Linked DNA regions of Homo sapiens: region 1 is linked to region 2. Evidence: fine-mapped expression QTL. Tissue or cell type: aorta. Region 2 holds a variant in brackets; the other region holds the start of a gene. All regions are shown on one strand. Distances are between the middles of the regions.

The links. PIP is the estimated chance that this variant, and not a neighbour inherited with it, causes the effect.
Region 1: CATSPER2 starts here. The variant in region 2 is fine-mapped to the expression of CATSPER2 in aorta (GTEx, PIP 0.98).

The regions. Positions count from the first base shown.
Region 1 is chr15:43,644,466-43,652,586 of GRCh38, reverse strand. It overlaps CATSPER2 (cation channel sperm associated 2), which reads left to right and starts at 3,743. Exons shown (of 13, transcript NM_172095.4): 1 at 3,743-3,958; 2 at 4,524-4,670; 3 at 5,120-5,293; 4 at 5,469-5,537. The coding sequence starts at 4,526. It also overlaps the pseudogene PPIP5K1P1-CATSPER2 and the pseudogene PDIA3P2.
Region 2 is chr15:43,445,015-43,453,014 of GRCh38, reverse strand. It overlaps TP53BP1 (tumor protein p53 binding protein 1), which reads left to right. Exons shown (of 28, transcript NM_001141980.3): 13 at 5,530-5,649; 14 at 6,425-6,628. Among named protein-coding and RNA genes, the nearest start is that of TP53BP1, 44 kb to the left of the region's middle. The variant G/A (reference allele first, on the strand shown) is at 3,606.

The DNA of each region.
Region 1 (8,121 bases), 200 kb before region 2:
TTCCAACTATGTGGCCAATTTTGGAATAGGTGTGGTGTGGTGCTGAAAAAAACGTATATTCTGTTGATTTGGGGTGGAGAGTTCTGTAGATGTCTATTAGGTCCGCTTGGTGGAGAGCTGAGTTCAATTCCTGGGTATTCTTGTTGACTTTCTGTCTCGTTGATCTGTCTAATGTTGACAGTGGGGTGTTAAAGTCTCCCATTATTAATGTGTGGGAGTCTAAGTCTCTTTGTAGGTCACTCAGGACTTGCTTTATGAATCTGGGTGCTCCTGTATTGGGTGCATATATATTTAGGATAGTTAGCTCTTCTTGTTGAATTGATCAACAAGGCCTTAATTACTTAATTGATCATTAAGTAATGGCCTTCGTCTCTTTTGATCTTTGTTGGTTTAAAGTCTGTTTTATCAGAGACTAGGATTGCAACCCCTGCCTTTTTTTGTTTTCCATTTGCTTGGTAGATCTTCCTCCATCCTTTTATTTTGAGCCTATGTGTGTCTCTGCACGTGAGATGGGTTTCCTGAATACAGCACACTGATGGGTCTTGACTCTTTATCCAATTTGCCAGTCTGTGTCTTTTAATTGGAGCATTTAGTCCATTTACATTTAAAGTTAATATTGTTATGTGTGAATTTGATCCTGTCATTATGATGTTAGCTGGTTATTTTGCTCATTAGTTGATGCAGTTTCTTCCTAGTCTCGATGGTCTTTACATTTTGGCATGATTTTGCAGCGGCTGGTACCGTTTGTTCCTGTCCATGTTTAGTGCTTCCTTCAGGAGCTCTTTTAGGGCAGGCCTGGTGGTGACAAAATCTCTCAGCATTTGCTTGTCTGTAAAGTATTTTATTTCTCCTTCACTTATGAAGCTTAATTTGGCTGGATATGAAATTCTGGGTTGAAAATTCTTTTCTTTAAGAATGTTGAATATTGGCCCCCACTCTCTTCTGGCTTGTAGAGTTTATGCCGAGAGATCTGCTGTTAGCCTGATGGGCTTCCCTTTCAGGGTAACCCACCTTTCTCTCTGGCTGCCCTTAACATTTTTTCCTTCATTTCAACTTTGGTGAATCTGACAATTATGTGTCTTGGTGTTGCTCTTCTCGAGGAGTATCTTTGTGGCATTCTCTGTATTTCCTGAATCTGAATGTTGGCCTGCCTTGCTAGATTGGGGAAGTTCTCCTGGATAATATCCTGTAGAGTGTTTTCCAACTTGGTTCCATTCTCCCCATCACTTTCAGGTACACCAGTCAGACGTAGATTTGGTCTTTTCACATAGTCCCATATTTCTTGGAGGCTTTGCTCATTTCTTTTTATTCTTTTTTCTCTAAACTTCCCTTCTCGCTTCATTTCATTCATTTCATCTTCCATCGCTGATACCCTTTCTTCCAGTTGATTGCATCGGCTCCTGAGGCTTCTGCATTCTTCACGTAGTTCTTGAGCCTTGGCTTTCAGCTCCATCAGCTCCTTTAAGCACTTCTCTGTATTGGTTATTGTAGTTATACATTCTTCTAAATTTTTTTCAAAGTTTTCAACTTCTTTGCCTTTGGTTTGAATGTCCTCCCGTAGCTCAGAGTAATTTGATCGTCTGAAGCCTTCTTCTCTCAGCTCGTCAAAGTCATTCTCCGTCCAGCTTTGTTCCGTTGCTGGTGAGGAACTGTGTTCCTTTGGAGGAGGAGAGGTGCTCTGCTTTTTAGAGTTTGCAGTTTTTCTGCTCTGTTTTTTCCCCATCTTTGTGGTTCTATCTACTTTTGGTTTTCGATGATGGTGATGTACAGATGGGTTTTTGGTGTGGACGTCCTTTCTGTTTGTTAGTTTTCCTTCTAACAGACAGGACCCTCAGCTGCAGGTCTGTTGGAGTACCTGGCCGTGTGAGGTGTCAGTCTGCCCCTGCTGGGGGTTGCCTCCCAGTTAGGCTGCTTGGGGGTCAGGGGTCAGGGACCCACTTGAGGAGGCAGTCTGGCCGTTCTCAGATCTCCAGCTGCGTGCTAGGAGAACCACTGCTCTCTTCAAAGCTGTCAGACAGGGACATTTAAGTCTGCAGAGGTTACTGCTGTCTTTTTGTTTGTCTGTGCCCTGCCCCCAGAGGTGGAGCCTACAGAGGCAGGCAGGCCTCCTTGAGCTGTGGTGGGCTCCACCCAGTTCGAGCTTCCCGGCTGCTTTGTTTACCTAAGCAAGCCTGGGCAATGGCAGGCACCCCTCCCCCAGCCTCGCTGCCGCCTTGCAGTTTGATCTCAGACTGCTGTGCTAGCAATCAGCGAGACTCCGTGGGTGTAGGACCCTCCGAGCCAGGTGCGGGATATAATCTCCTGGTGCGCTGTTTTTTAAGCCCGTCGGAAAAGCGAAGTTTTCGGGTGGGAGTGACCCGATTTTCCAGGTGCTGTCTGTCACCACTTTCTTTGACTAGGAAAGGGAACTCCCTGACCCCTTGCGCTTCCCGAGTGAGGCAATGCCTCGCCCTGCTTCGGCTCGTGCACAGTGCGCGCACCCACTGACCTGCGCCCACTGTCTGGCACTCCCTATTGAGATGAACCGGGTACCTCAGATGGAAATGCAGAAATCACCCGTCTTCTGCGTCACTCATGCTGGGAGCTGTCGACTGGAGCTGTTCCTATTCGGAGTATTGACATTTTAAAGAAATCCTAATTAAAATGGACAATATGGACAGATTATGATGGAATTATTCTTGTTCAGGTACTCTTTTCGTTTGGACAGAGGTATCTGCCGGTACTGAGATGTAAGTGATCAGCTGAAGGGAGAAACTGTACACCATGTGACGGACAAATTGCCTGCCTCAAGAAAGCACTTAGGACCATTCTGCAGCCACTCAGTGACCTTGGCTAGAAACCAATGGCTGTGCGGCGTGAGGTAAGATGAAAGGAAATACCCTAGGGATCCAGGACTTCTGCATTTGGTGAAACGTCCGCTTCCACTACAAGGCTTTGGGATGTCTAGTCTGTAGACTGGAGTAACATTAATACTGACTCATGCAGAAACAATATAGCTACATATTGAACTGGGGGAAGGGGTGGCAAAACCCTCTGCAAATAGGAAGTGCCACAAGAGCACCGAGATAAGGATGAGGCCCTGCGTGAGCGCAGCCTTCGGGTTTTCCTTGGGCCGATCAGCACCGACTCCACCGCTCTCGGCGAGGCACCTCCAGCTCCCGGGAATGAGAAATGTGCCCGCCACAGCAGGGGCCCACAGGAATGAAGGGCGCCGGCGCTGCGTAGGCCCAACAGTTCCCCGCGCCCTCGCCCCCGGCCCCGGCCCAGCCCGGCCCTTCTTCCCCCGCCTTGGCAGAGTGGCGTCATCAGGGGGCGAAAAACCCGACGAGCATGAGGCCCGCAGATCCCGTGTAGGAGATGCGACTCTCGAAGTTGTCGTCCGTGAGTTCGGAGGCAGCGGCGAGGCGGGCCGCGGCAAGAAGCAGCGCCACACCCGGGAACAGCGCTAGGCGGCGGAGGCGCATGGCGGCGAGGTGGGGTGGGGACGGCCGGAAGGGTCGCGGCTCGGCTGGGACTGCGGAGGTCGGGCGCGCGACCACAAACCGGCTGCCTGCGCTGGCGCGTCTGGCCCAGGGGACCTGCAGCCGGAGGTCCCAACCCCCAAACCCGGCTCGGGCCGCTGTGTGGCAGCCGCTGATTGGCTGCGCGTCGCCTTCGTCCGGCGGGCGGGACCAGCTGGTTACCGCTGAGTGGCCGGAGAGCGGGGCGGGGCGGGGCCTAGGCGGCGAGTGGCTGGGCGAGCGTTGCTCCGCATGGTCCTGGGCTGTGGGTAGGGGCTAGGGCCGGGTCCCGGGGTGAGCCGAAACCTGGGGGTCGAGCGGGGCGGGGAATGGGGCGCAGTGAGGCTGGGAGCCGGCCCTGAGCTCGTCTTGCATAGGGGTAGCCAGGCTCGGGGCACCTGAGCTGGAGGCGGAAGCGTGAAATAAGGACTGAGTGGGCAAAGAGAACCTGGGCTGAGGTGAGGCCCAGAAGCGAGAATGGAGGAGAGAAGGAGCTAGCCCCCGAAGGAGTGTTGGAGTGGACACACTTGGGACGGGACCCATTTTCAAAATGTCAGGCTTTGGCATTTTGTCCAATTTCTCTGCACTTGGTTTCTCTTGCGTGAGCAGGCCAAGACCTCCCCCAACTCCACCTCATTGCCCGATTGTCTCAGGCACAGGTGGGACCCAGATTCTTTGTCCAGCCCCGGGCCCCTGCCCTTGTGGCTGCTCCTTTTTCTTGCGGTGTTTTTGTTTGTTTTGTTTTGTTTTTAATGAGTTTTAATTAGAAATGCCATCACAAAGTGAAGATGCCTGGCCGCTTGGTCGACTGTGCAATGTCTTTACCACTTAGCCCCTTTTGTTTCAAAACACCCTGAGTCCTAGTAGAATGTTTGTTCTTCCCAACTGCTCCTAGTTCGTAGATGTGGGTACATTAAGGAATCTTAAGGGTAAAGAGGGTGGGGAGGAGGGGACAGAAAACCTGTAATCCTTGGTGCAGCTCCAAGAATGAAATGACACTTGATGCTTACATTTTCTTAGCAGACATGGCCGCTTACCAACAAGAAGAGCAGATGCAGCTTCCCCGAGCTGATGCCATTCGTTCACGTCTCATCGATACTTTCTCTCTCATTGAGCATTTGCAAGGCTTGAGCCAAGCTGTGCCGCGGCACACTATCAGGGAGTTACTTGGTCAGCAGCCTATTTCTTCACTAATTTAAATTTAAGACTCCTATCCACATCCTCTACATTTAAGAGTGGAAAATTCTGGGGAGGTTTAGTTGCTGGTTTACCAAACTTGATAAATCAAGGGCTTGTAAATAAAACTGAAGAGATAGAATCCACGTCTTTCACTTTTAGGCCTAGGATAGCCACTAGCCATGGATGATTGGGAAGAGTTTCTGTCAAAGACTCTTAAAACTTTGAGAGTGAGCCTGCTGCTTTTGTGGGCATGGACAGTGTTGGTCATAAGCAATACATTTGCTCTCACTCCAAACAGAATTCTTAGTTGCTGTGAGAAGAGAAGGACTAGCAGTAAGGCATTAGGGGAACCCATTACCTGACCAGTATCCCTGCCCCCAACCCTACCTGGTCTATTTTGTTTGTATTTATCCACTATCCCTTTTTAATTTTTGTTGTAGATCCTTCCCGCCAGAAGAAACTTGTATTGGGAGATCAACACCAGCTAGTGCGTTTCTCTATAAAGCCTCAGCGTATAGAACAGATTTCACATGCCCAGAGGCTGTTGAGCAGGCTTCATGTGCGCTGCAGTCAGAGGCCACCTCTTTCTTTGTGGGCCGGATGGGTCCTTGAGTGTATCCTTTCATGTCACTCATTTTTATCCTGGCTGTTGATCATCTGCCTAATGACTTATTTTTTGCTCCCCATACTCCACTGTCTCATTTTCACTGCTTATGTTATTGCTCTTATTATTTCAGCTGCATAAATCAGAAAGAACTCCACTCTGTACATTTCCTTAAGAGACAACAGGTCCTCTCTTCAAAAACTTCATCATCTTCCTGGTCTTTTTGAATACGATCATATTGATGGTTGAAATAGGTGAGAACTGACCTTGTATGAAAGAGGAAGTGAGGCCGGGCACGCCGGCTCACACGTGTAATCCTAGCACTTTGGGAGGCCGGGGCGTGTGGATTGCCGGAGCTCAGGAGTTGGAGACCAGCCTGGGCAACATGGTGAAACCCTGTCTCTACTAAAAAATACAAAAAATTAGCCGGGCTTGGTAGCACGCGCTTGTAGTCCCAGCTACTTGGGAGGCTGAGGCAGGAGAATCGCTTAAACCCAGGAGGCGTAGGTTTCAGTGAGCCGAGATTGTGCCACTGCATTTCAGCCTGGGCGACAGAGTACAACTCTGTCTCAAAAAAAAAAAAAAGAAAAAGAAAAAGAGGAAGTGGGTAGGAGTAATTTTTTTTTCTAAATTGATCATTTTACATTTTTGAATGTCATTTGAAATGTGACATTTATATTAAGGACAATTATATTAAGCCTCCTGGAGTAGAATTTATGCAACTGCTAAAATCTAGAAATATTCGCTGGGCACGGTAGCTCACACCTGTAATCTCAGCACTTTGGGAGGCCGAGGTGGTTGAATCACTTGAGGTCAGGAATTCAAGACCAGCCTAGCCAACATGTTGAAACCCCATCTGTACTAAAAATAGAAAAAATTAGCTGGGCGTGGTGGTGGGCACCTGTAATCCCAGCTACTCAGTAGGCTGAGGCAGGAGGACGCTTGATCGTGGGAAGCCGAGGTTGCAGTGAGCTGAAATCACGCCACTGCACCCCATCTCAAAAAAAAAAGAAATATTAATATTTGGAGGCTCTCAAGAGTATACTAGATACAGAGCATCTAGACACATAAAACTAGGTGTAATATGTAGCAATATAACAAATCCACAAGGAACTGAACTTGGGAAGACCAGTTTTATTTCTGTTGTCAGTTTAGCCTGACATTTGTTTGAATTAACCTTTTCTGTTAAAGATATTGGTGCCTATCAGTGAACGATCTAACATTTACATTTTTACAAGTATATTTAGAAAGATTAAGTATAAATAAGAAAGCTCACAAAGTATGGAAAGGTAGGTACAACTAAGATATTAGCTGAGCCAAAAAAATTACTTAAAAAGGAAATGATTCTGAAACCAATAATAAATTATATGAAATACATTCAAAACATAAGTATGTCTGCAAAATCAGTGAGCTCATTTGTTGATAATCTCAAACTGCTCAGAAATGATGAAAGGACAGTAGAACTTGTTTCATTCTCACTGTTGTGGGGAAGTCTCCCACTTTATGTTTTAGAGACAGAGTCTCACTTTGTTGCTTAGGCTGGAGTGCAGTGGTGTGATCATGGCTTGTTGCAGCCTCGACCTCCAGGGCTCAGTTGATCCTCCCACCTCGGCCTCCTGAGTAGCTTGGACTACAGGTGCATGCCCACTACACCAGGCTAATTATGTTGATTTTATTTTTGTAGAGACAGGGTCTCACTATGTTGCCCAGGCTGGTCTTGAACTCCTGGGCTCAAAAGATCCTCATGCCTTAGCCTCCCAAAGTGCTGGGATTACAGGCGTGAGTTACCACGTCCAGCCTAGGAGGAATTTTTAAGAGAAGGGAGTAGTTATGAAGCTCTTGGCTGTTTATTTCACACAGATATTTTCCTCAACAGAAATGTCCAGTGCCTGTAGCCAGTTCAGGACTCTGCCTCTAGCTCCAAGTCCCCTACAAGCTTATCTCTGGGGCCCAGGCATGGTGGTTCATGCCTGTAATCCCAGCACTTTGGGAGGCTGAGGCGGGAGGATCGCTTGAGCTCAGGAGTTTGAGACCAGCCTGGCCAATGTGGAGAAACCTCATCTCTACAAAAAATACAAAAGTTAGCTAGGTGTGGTGGCACATGCCTGTAGTCCCAGCTACTCAGCAGGCTGAGGTGGGAGGATCGCTTGAGCCTGGGAGGCGGAGGTTGCAGTGAGCCATCATGCAACGGAACTCCAGCCTAGGTGACAAAGTGAGACCCTGTCTCAAAAAAATAAAATAGTCCTTTACTGCAGTCAGGTCAAAGATATTTAAATATACAACAATAATTGATGTCACAGACCCACTACAGTATACTATATACTTTGAGGTGTTTTATTTCCTCCTCGTAATGGTGAAGATTTTGAACTAACTTACTTATAATTCCCTTTTATTGTATGATTGCTGCCATGTATTTGCCTTGCATGGCTAGAATTATAGTCCTAAGCCTTGGAATGAAGTAAATAATAGTAACTATACAGGATTTCCTAGATCAGTGGTCCCCAGCCTTTTTGGCATCAGGGACTGGTTTCTTGCAAGACAGTTTTTCCATGGATGGGGTAGGAGGGAGGTTTCAGGATGAAGCTGTTCCACCTCAGATCATCAGGCATTAGATTCTCCTAAGGGTCACGCACATGCAGTTCACAATAGGGCTCGCCCTCCTGTGAGAATCTAATGCCGCAGCTGATCTGACAGGAGGTGGAGCTCAGGCGGTAATGCTCACTCACCCACCACTCACTTCCTGCTGCATGGCCGGGTTCCTAACAGACCATGGACTGGTACCAGTCCGTAGCCTGGGGCTTGGGACCCCTGCCCTAGATCTAATAGACAAATCAAAAT
Region 2 (8,000 bases):
CACCGTGTTAGCCAGGATGGTCTCGATCTCCTGACCTCGTGATCCGCCCGCCTCGGCCTCCCAAAGTGCTGGGATTACAGGCGTGAGCCACCGCGCCCGGCCTGGAGTACTTTTAAATTAAATGCAAAAGAAGCTTCTAAAACAGTGAGATATTCTATTATTTTAATAGTATTCTTCATGAATTCTTGTTTACATTGTTAATTGGCAGAGTCAGCTTTTTTTGCCGTAGTAAAACTTATTATTTTATTAACATTAATATCCAGATTATTGAAAATGCTAGTGATTTCGTGTTTATTTCATGATTTTAGTTCTTGGGCAAACAACAAAAAGTAATGAAGACAGTGGTTGGAAAATAGTATTTATGAGGAGAAGTTAAATAAAAATAATTTTAACTACAAATTAGAACATGAAGGGAGAATAATAGCTTTTTGTCTTTTTTTTTGTTTGTTTTTGAGCCAGGGTCTCACTCTGTCGCCCAGGCTGGAGTGCAGTGGCACCATCAATGTTCACTGCAGCCTTGACCTCCCGGGCTCAGGTGATCCTCCCACTTCAGCCCCCCGCCCCGAGAAGCCGGGACTACAGGCGTGTACCAGCATGCTTGGCTGATTTTTTGTAGAGACAGGGTTTTGCCATGTTGCCCAGGCTGATCTCGAACTCTTGGATTCAGGCAATCCACCCACCTTGGCCTCCCAGAGTGCCAGGATTACAGGTATGAGCCACCGTGCTCAGCCGAGAACAATAGTTTTTAACTTAGAAAATTGTATAAAATAAATCATTCAGAAGAGCGTTGCAAAAAGAACAGAAAAATATTATTTTGTACTTAAAAATATAGTTGTTTAGTTGCTAAATGTTGAGAGACTAATTTTATTTTTATTTTTTTGGAACAGAGTCTTGCTCTGTCGCCCAGGCTGGAGTGCAGTGACATGATCTCGGCTCACTGCAACCTCCGCCTCCCAGGTTCAAGTGATTCTTGTGCCTCAGCCTCCTGAGTAGCTGGAATTATAGGCACATGTCACCATGCCTGGCTAATTTTTGTATTTTTAGTAGAGACAGGGTTTTGCCATGTTGGCCAGGCTGGTCTCGAAGTCCTGGCCTCAAGTAATCCACCTGCCTTGGCCTCTCAAAGTGCCGGGATTACAGGTATGAGCCACTGGGCCTGGCCAAATTTAAATGATAGTAATCTAAAAAGTAATGGTTCTTCACTTTTACACTGTTGGTGGGACTGTAAACTAGTTCAACCATTGTGGAAGTCACTGTGGCGATTCCTCAGGGATCTAGAACTAGAAATACCATTTGACCCAGCCATCCCATTACTGGGTATATACCCAAAGGACTATAAATCATGCTGCTATAAAAACACATGCAGACGTATGTTTATTGCGGCACTATTCACAATAGCAAAGACTTGGAACCATCCCAAATGTCCAACAATGATAGACTGGATTAAGAAAATGTGGCACATATACACCATGGAATACTATGCAGCCATAAAAAATGATGAGTTCGTGTCCTTTGTAGGGACATGGATGAAATTGGAAATCATCATTCTCAGTAAACTATCGCAAGGACAAAAAACCAAACACCGCATGTTCTCACTCATAGATGGGAATAGAACAATGAGAACACATGGACACAGGAAGGGGAACATCACACTCTGGGGACTGTTGTGGGGTGGGGGGACGGGGGAGGGATAACATTGAGAGATATACCTAATGCTAAATGACGAGTTGATGGGTGCAGCACACCAGCATGGCACATGTATACGTGTGTGACTAACCTGCACATTGTGCACATGTACCCTAAAACTTAAAGTATAATAATTAAAAAAAAAAAGAAAAAAAGTAATGGTTCTTCAGTCTGAAAAGACAGAATGAAAGGTGTGAATTGGGTGAGTTTTGCATTTGTTCATCTACTATTAGAAGAGCACTTTTTTGTTGTTAATAGATTTATTGATTTTAAAAAAAGATACATGCTTGGCCAGGCATGGTGGCGTGCACGCGTAATTCCAGTTACTTAGGAGGCTGAGGCTTGAGAATCACTTGAACTCGGGAGGCGGAGGTTGTAGTAAGCTGAGATTGCACCACTGCACTTTAGCCTGCGCAACAGGGCGAGACCCTGTCTCAAATAAATAAGTAAATAAATAATGCATGCTTAATTTTGAAAAACATTCAAACAATACAAAGTAGAGATTCTGAGTGGGGAGGGTGTGGGGAGAGAGGGAGTTGGAAGGAAAAGAGAGAGTGAGTACAGAGAGGGAGAGAGAGAATTACTTTAAATGTCTCCATTTATAGATAACTTGTCACTGTTAACAGTTTGGAGACCTCTTCAAGTATCTGTCTATGGAGAGCTCCTGTTAAACCTGTAAAAAAGCAAGATGGTACTTGGAAGCCCAATCTTGTTCAACACAGAACAAATATTTGGTGGGTTGATGATGTGAAAAACTGTAAGGAGTTCAGTAAGTCTTTAAATCCATAAGTAATAGTCTGTAATAGTTAATAATGATCAGGGGATCTAGATGTGTTTTAGGCTCTAGCTATAACCTTTATTTGCTTACTTGATAGAATGCCATCTTAATTGGCTATTAATATCAGAGGCAGACTTTTGGGGTAGACTTCATGCATGATATCGCCGGATATATAAATTCTTACATTTTTAACTAGATGGCTTTTAATAAATTCTTAGGGGTAACCAGTTCTTTTAAGAACAAAGAAGAAAAATGGGTTTAAAACTATAACAGAAAGTTAGGAGAGACCTTCTTAACATTTAGAGTTTTAAATATTGCTTTGGAGTTATTCTCTAAAGTCCTTAAAGGACACATACTCCCACTCAGGTGGTTTCAAAATTAGTATTGAGTTTCCTTTTGTTTCCTCATTCATATCCTTCATTATTGTTTGGTATGCTGACCTACAACATGATAGCCCATGATTATCTGGAAAAACAAGAAGGGATTTGATAATTTAAAGAATGTAGGATTGCTAAATGTTAGAGAAATAATGGAATATGTGGAAAATTCCGTAAGTTTAAAAGGATAAAATATACCAGCAAATGTATTTTTAAGGATTTGGCAATAGTTTGAGTAGATGTGTGGTGTTTTCCAGATGAGGGAACAAAAGCATAGAAATGGGAAACCTTTGGAGGACATTGAATAGAAGCTTTATGAACGTGAATAATTAAAGAAAAACTGGAGATATAGGCTGCTACTAGTTAGTTGAATGCTGACTATAGAGTTGGGAATTTGTCTTCTAGTGAAAACCTTGAAGTTTTTTGACCAGGAGCTAACAAAGCCATGTTTTCTAGGAAGGCTGCAGAAAGTGTGCAGAAAGAATGGGGGTTAGGGAGAGTGGGAGACTTTAGGCAGAGGAAGTGATTGATAGGCTATGGTAATAATCCAGGAATGAGGCATTGGAGACCTGAGGAGAGTAGTGGCAGTGCTGTCCCTAGGGCCTGTAAAAGTCTGAATTTTCCATTAGGTTATAGTAATGCAGTTAGATAAATGGTGCTAAAATTACTTTCCATAAGTTTTATGTAATACTGTGCAAAGGAAACCTTGTTACAGGGATATATTTTCAGCGATTAATGCTTGCATATTGCATTTGCGTAATATA[G/A]TATGTCACATAGAAAGGTCTGCTTAAAGATTTCATGCACATTTTCAGAAGTCTGGAATATATGAGGCTTTGCAAGGTGTTTTTTAAGTTTCTGTATCTCTTCTAAGTTCTTTATTAGAACAACTTGCTTTATAAGGGGCTACCACAGAATGAATGCTTATCTACCTGACCCATTTCTCTTTTCTGTAACTATGGTGGATGTCTGTCAGTTAGATGTAATGTTGAGATTCTTCATCCATACTGTTTACAGGTTTGTTTTTGTTTTGTTTTGTTTTGTTTTTTTGAGGCACGGTCTCGCTCTGTCATCCAGGCTGTAGTGCGGTGGCACCATCTTGGCTTACTGCAACCTCTGCCTCCCAGGTTCAAGCAGTTCTCCTGCCTCAGCCTCCTGAGTAGCTGGGATTACAGGCACCTGCCACTACACCCAGCTAATTTTTGTATTTTTAGTGGAGACAGGGTTTCATTATTTTGGCCAGGCTGGTCTCGAACTTCTGACCTCAAGTGATCCATCCGCCTTCGTCTCCCAAAGTGTTGGGATTACAGGCATGAGCCATGGTACCTGGCCCCTCTTTACAGTTTCTTTAGCTGAGCATATGTACTTTAATCCTTTATTTCTAAAGACCATTTCTTTTTCTCTCTTTATCTCCTCAGATTACTAATTCATTTTCTCTTGAAACCCCATCTCTACTAAAAATACAAAAAATTAGCTGGGCGTGATGGAGGGCGCCTGTAGTCCCAGCTACTTGGGAGGCTGAGGCAGGAGAATGGCATGAACCCGGGAGGCGGAGCTGGCAGTGAGCCGAGATCGAGCTACTGCACTCCAGCCTGGGCGACAGAGCCAGACTCCGTCTCAAAAAAAAAAAAAAATTTTTTTGTTTTGTTTTGTTTTAAAGGAAAAAATTATCACGGTGCTTGCTATTAAAGATAGGAGTGGAAAAAGATGAAAGAAGCAAACTACTTTCATAAGTAGTAGTGTCCAAGTATGCCAGATTATAGTTATTTTGAGCCATCCCAGGAAAGTAAGAAGAAATTTTCATATATTAGTTTTAAGAGGGCAGTCTGGCGCAATTCTTATTTTCTCCCAAATGTATCATTTTATAAAAAGAGATAAATTAGGAAATTAGAAAATGTGATTTTTTGACGGTTTTCTAGTTCTGATTAGCAAAAATTTGGAACTGAGACCTAGGTAGAAAGTAGCTTTATGTCTTGACAAATATTTTCTATTTATAATAATTTAATAACTAAAATGTGTACACTGGTGATGCTTATATATGAGGGATTTACTGTTGTGCAGAGATTTAGGTATGAACATTACACTTAGGCCTAGAGTGAATGCTGGTCCGTACTGCTGAACCATGAAACCCTTGGATTTCTATGCTAGAACCAGTCAGTATCTTGAAGTCCTTTAACCCGTGAGATCCTCTGTCATCTCTTTGATTAGATTGTACATTATAAGTATTAACTTCAAACTTTGCTTTGGAGAATCCTACAGACTATTAAGGCTTATAAACAAACTCCTTAGGTTAGCATTGCACAAAATTATGTTGTTCTGATTTGAAACTGTCCAAATTTGTATTGCTAAATATCCCCTGATGTACTGTCTTGGAGATCAAATGTTTGTGTTCCATTTGACTCCAGGTTCCTCAGGTCTTGCAGACTTCGGGCTTTCTCAATTTGCCTGTCCTCTGGTTGTCTACTTTGTGTCAGTACTATAGTTGTTGGCTGTGAAGAGAGCAGAGACGATAGAAGGGAGTTAGTCAGGAGGCCTGGTGAGGGTGGTGGCAATGAGACAGAATTTGGGAGCAAAGGAAAAGAGTGATTGAAATATTTCTTGCAGTTCTTATTATTTTTGCTTATTTTATACTTCTGTTTTTTTTAAATCATTTTTTCTTTCTTTCTTTTTTCTTTTTTTTTTTTTTTTCAGAAACCCCATTTCATTTCACTTTGCCTAAAGAAGGTGATATCATCCCACCATTGACTGGTGCAACCCCACCTCTTATTGGGCACCTAAAATTGGAGCCCAAGAGACACAGTACTCCTATTGGTGAGTGAATAAAAAGTAATGATATTTAAGGCAGAATTTCTGAGATATCATTCTCTACACAAGTGATATTTTAGATCTGAGGAGTTGGGTCTGGCTGGTAAGGTTGATTTTTGTTTTAGGGAAAATAGGGTTATGAAGTCTGGTTCTGTGATTTTACTACTAGGAGATGAGGGGTAAAGAGAGGAAGGAAAGAAAGGGTGGAGGGAAGTAAGAAAGAAAGAGAATACTTAAAAGAATTTTATCTTATTACTTGCAAGGCAGTAGAATCTGAGTGCTAAGTAGTGATGTAGAGATGTTTTATAAGGATGGAACAGGAAGTAAGGTAGAAGTACTATTTATTCAGTACCTTGGCTAATTAGTCAGTCTGCTGCTTGACAGGGCAAGAAAACTTAGATCCTCCTTCCCTGAAGCAGCCAGTAGTCTTCTACATTAACCTATTTGTTTTCTCTAGTCAGTGCTGGGAGGTAACAATCATGCCGTCTGGAGTCTCCTGCTACCTATGCCTGATGCTGGCAGATGTGGGTTGGCTGAGGGCTCATGCAGCATCCTTTGTCCAGATGCAGAAGTGGAACTGAATCCTGTTGCTCCTCTTAAGACCAGGTGTCAATACTAGTTCGTAGTTGTTGATACTTATGACAGGGATCTATCCTAGGAACCTCCTTCAATCCTGCAGAGCTGTGGAGCCAAACAGGCAAATTGATGACCTTGAATTGCTGTTTTTTGTGTTTGTATTTTAGTGTTCTTTTTTTCTTCCTCCCTGCCTCACTTCTTTCAGGTATTAGCAACTATCCAGAAAGCACCATAGCAACCAGTGATGTCATGTCTGAAAGCATGGTGGAGACCCATGATCCCATACTTGGGAGTGGAAAAGGGGATTCTGGGGCTGCCCCAGACGTGGATGATAAATTATGTCTAAGAATGAAACTGGTTAGTCCTGAGACTGAGGCGAGTGAAGAGTCTTTGCAGTTCAACCTGGAAAGTAAGTTTTATGTTAATCTTGGGTAATTAGTAGCTGCAGATTATCTGGGGAGTATTGATTATAATCTAGTTATAATAATTGATACTTCTATATTTATAAATGTATTTGTAAAGTCTTACACTCATAGATTTAATTCTTTGCTTTTGGCCAGCCTGTCATGTTACTAAAGATACTCTGTTTTATAATCTCCATATTATAGCTTGTTTCTGTTAAGTCTGTTCCTATGTAATTGGTTTCCCTATTCAGAAAGACTTCAGAATAGGGTAGAAAACTTTAGGACTGTGGATTCACATTGCAGATTAATGTTGATTCTTTCCCACATGAATTAGAAGTTGTTTGGTAGGGCTAGAATAAAGAGAAGATACAAGGGAGGGATGCAAAGTAGGGACCAGATGCTGAAAGGCTTTTTACATCATGCTGAGAAGCCGAAGAATTTTAGGCAAGGGAGTAATATGATCAGATTTGCCTTTAAAAAAAAGCATCAGCTGAGTCTTTCAAAACCTTGTGCTTTTGTGCATGATGATTCCTTTCCTTGCATTTCCCATATTCTGTTCTCCTGCCTGGTAAATTCTACCCAGTCTTTAACCAGAAAGTGAGGTCATTGGTAGTGGGGCTGGAGATGAGGGATGAATTTGAGGAGCGAGTAGGCAGAACGATGGTGCCAGGTGAATATGGAAGTAAGGGGGAGGAAAAAAAGAGAGAATGACTCTTCACATATACTGTATGATCTCATTTCCATAATAGTACTCCCAAGTAGGTATCTGCATTTTCATTTTATTGATGAGAAAACAGAGTAAGAGAGGTTTTTAAGTTACATGTCTAAGGTCACAATAATTGGTGCTAGGTGGAGTTGGAATTTGAGTCAGACCTAACTCTGAAGCTTATAATTTTTTCATTTCAGGTAATTTGTAAAAGCTGTTTAAGGGGGATTAGAAGAGGAAGAAATCTCATAAAGGAGATTATAAAGGAACGTTCAGAGAGAAGGAGAACTAGGAGGGTATATGAAGCCATGGAAGCCTATGGGGAGGGGAGTTACAAGAAGATCATGTCAGGCACAGGAGCAAGTTTAGTAAGATGTGTCTGGAAATATACTTTGACTTCGGCGAGGCAATTAGGATCCATTTGGTGACTCTAGCAAGAGCCATTTCAGTGCAGCAGTTGGGGTGGGAGCTATACTGAAAGTAATTGAGGAAGGATGAGGAAGAGGAGATGAGGCTGCAAATGTACTCTCTACTTTTGAGAAGTTTATGTGAGAGAAGAAGAGAAAATATGGTGAGTTAGAGGGAAATGCAGGGTTGAGAGAGGATTTGTTATTTTAGGCTGGGAGAGGCCTGAGCAAGTTTACAGATTTTAACCCATTTATGCCTAGTGT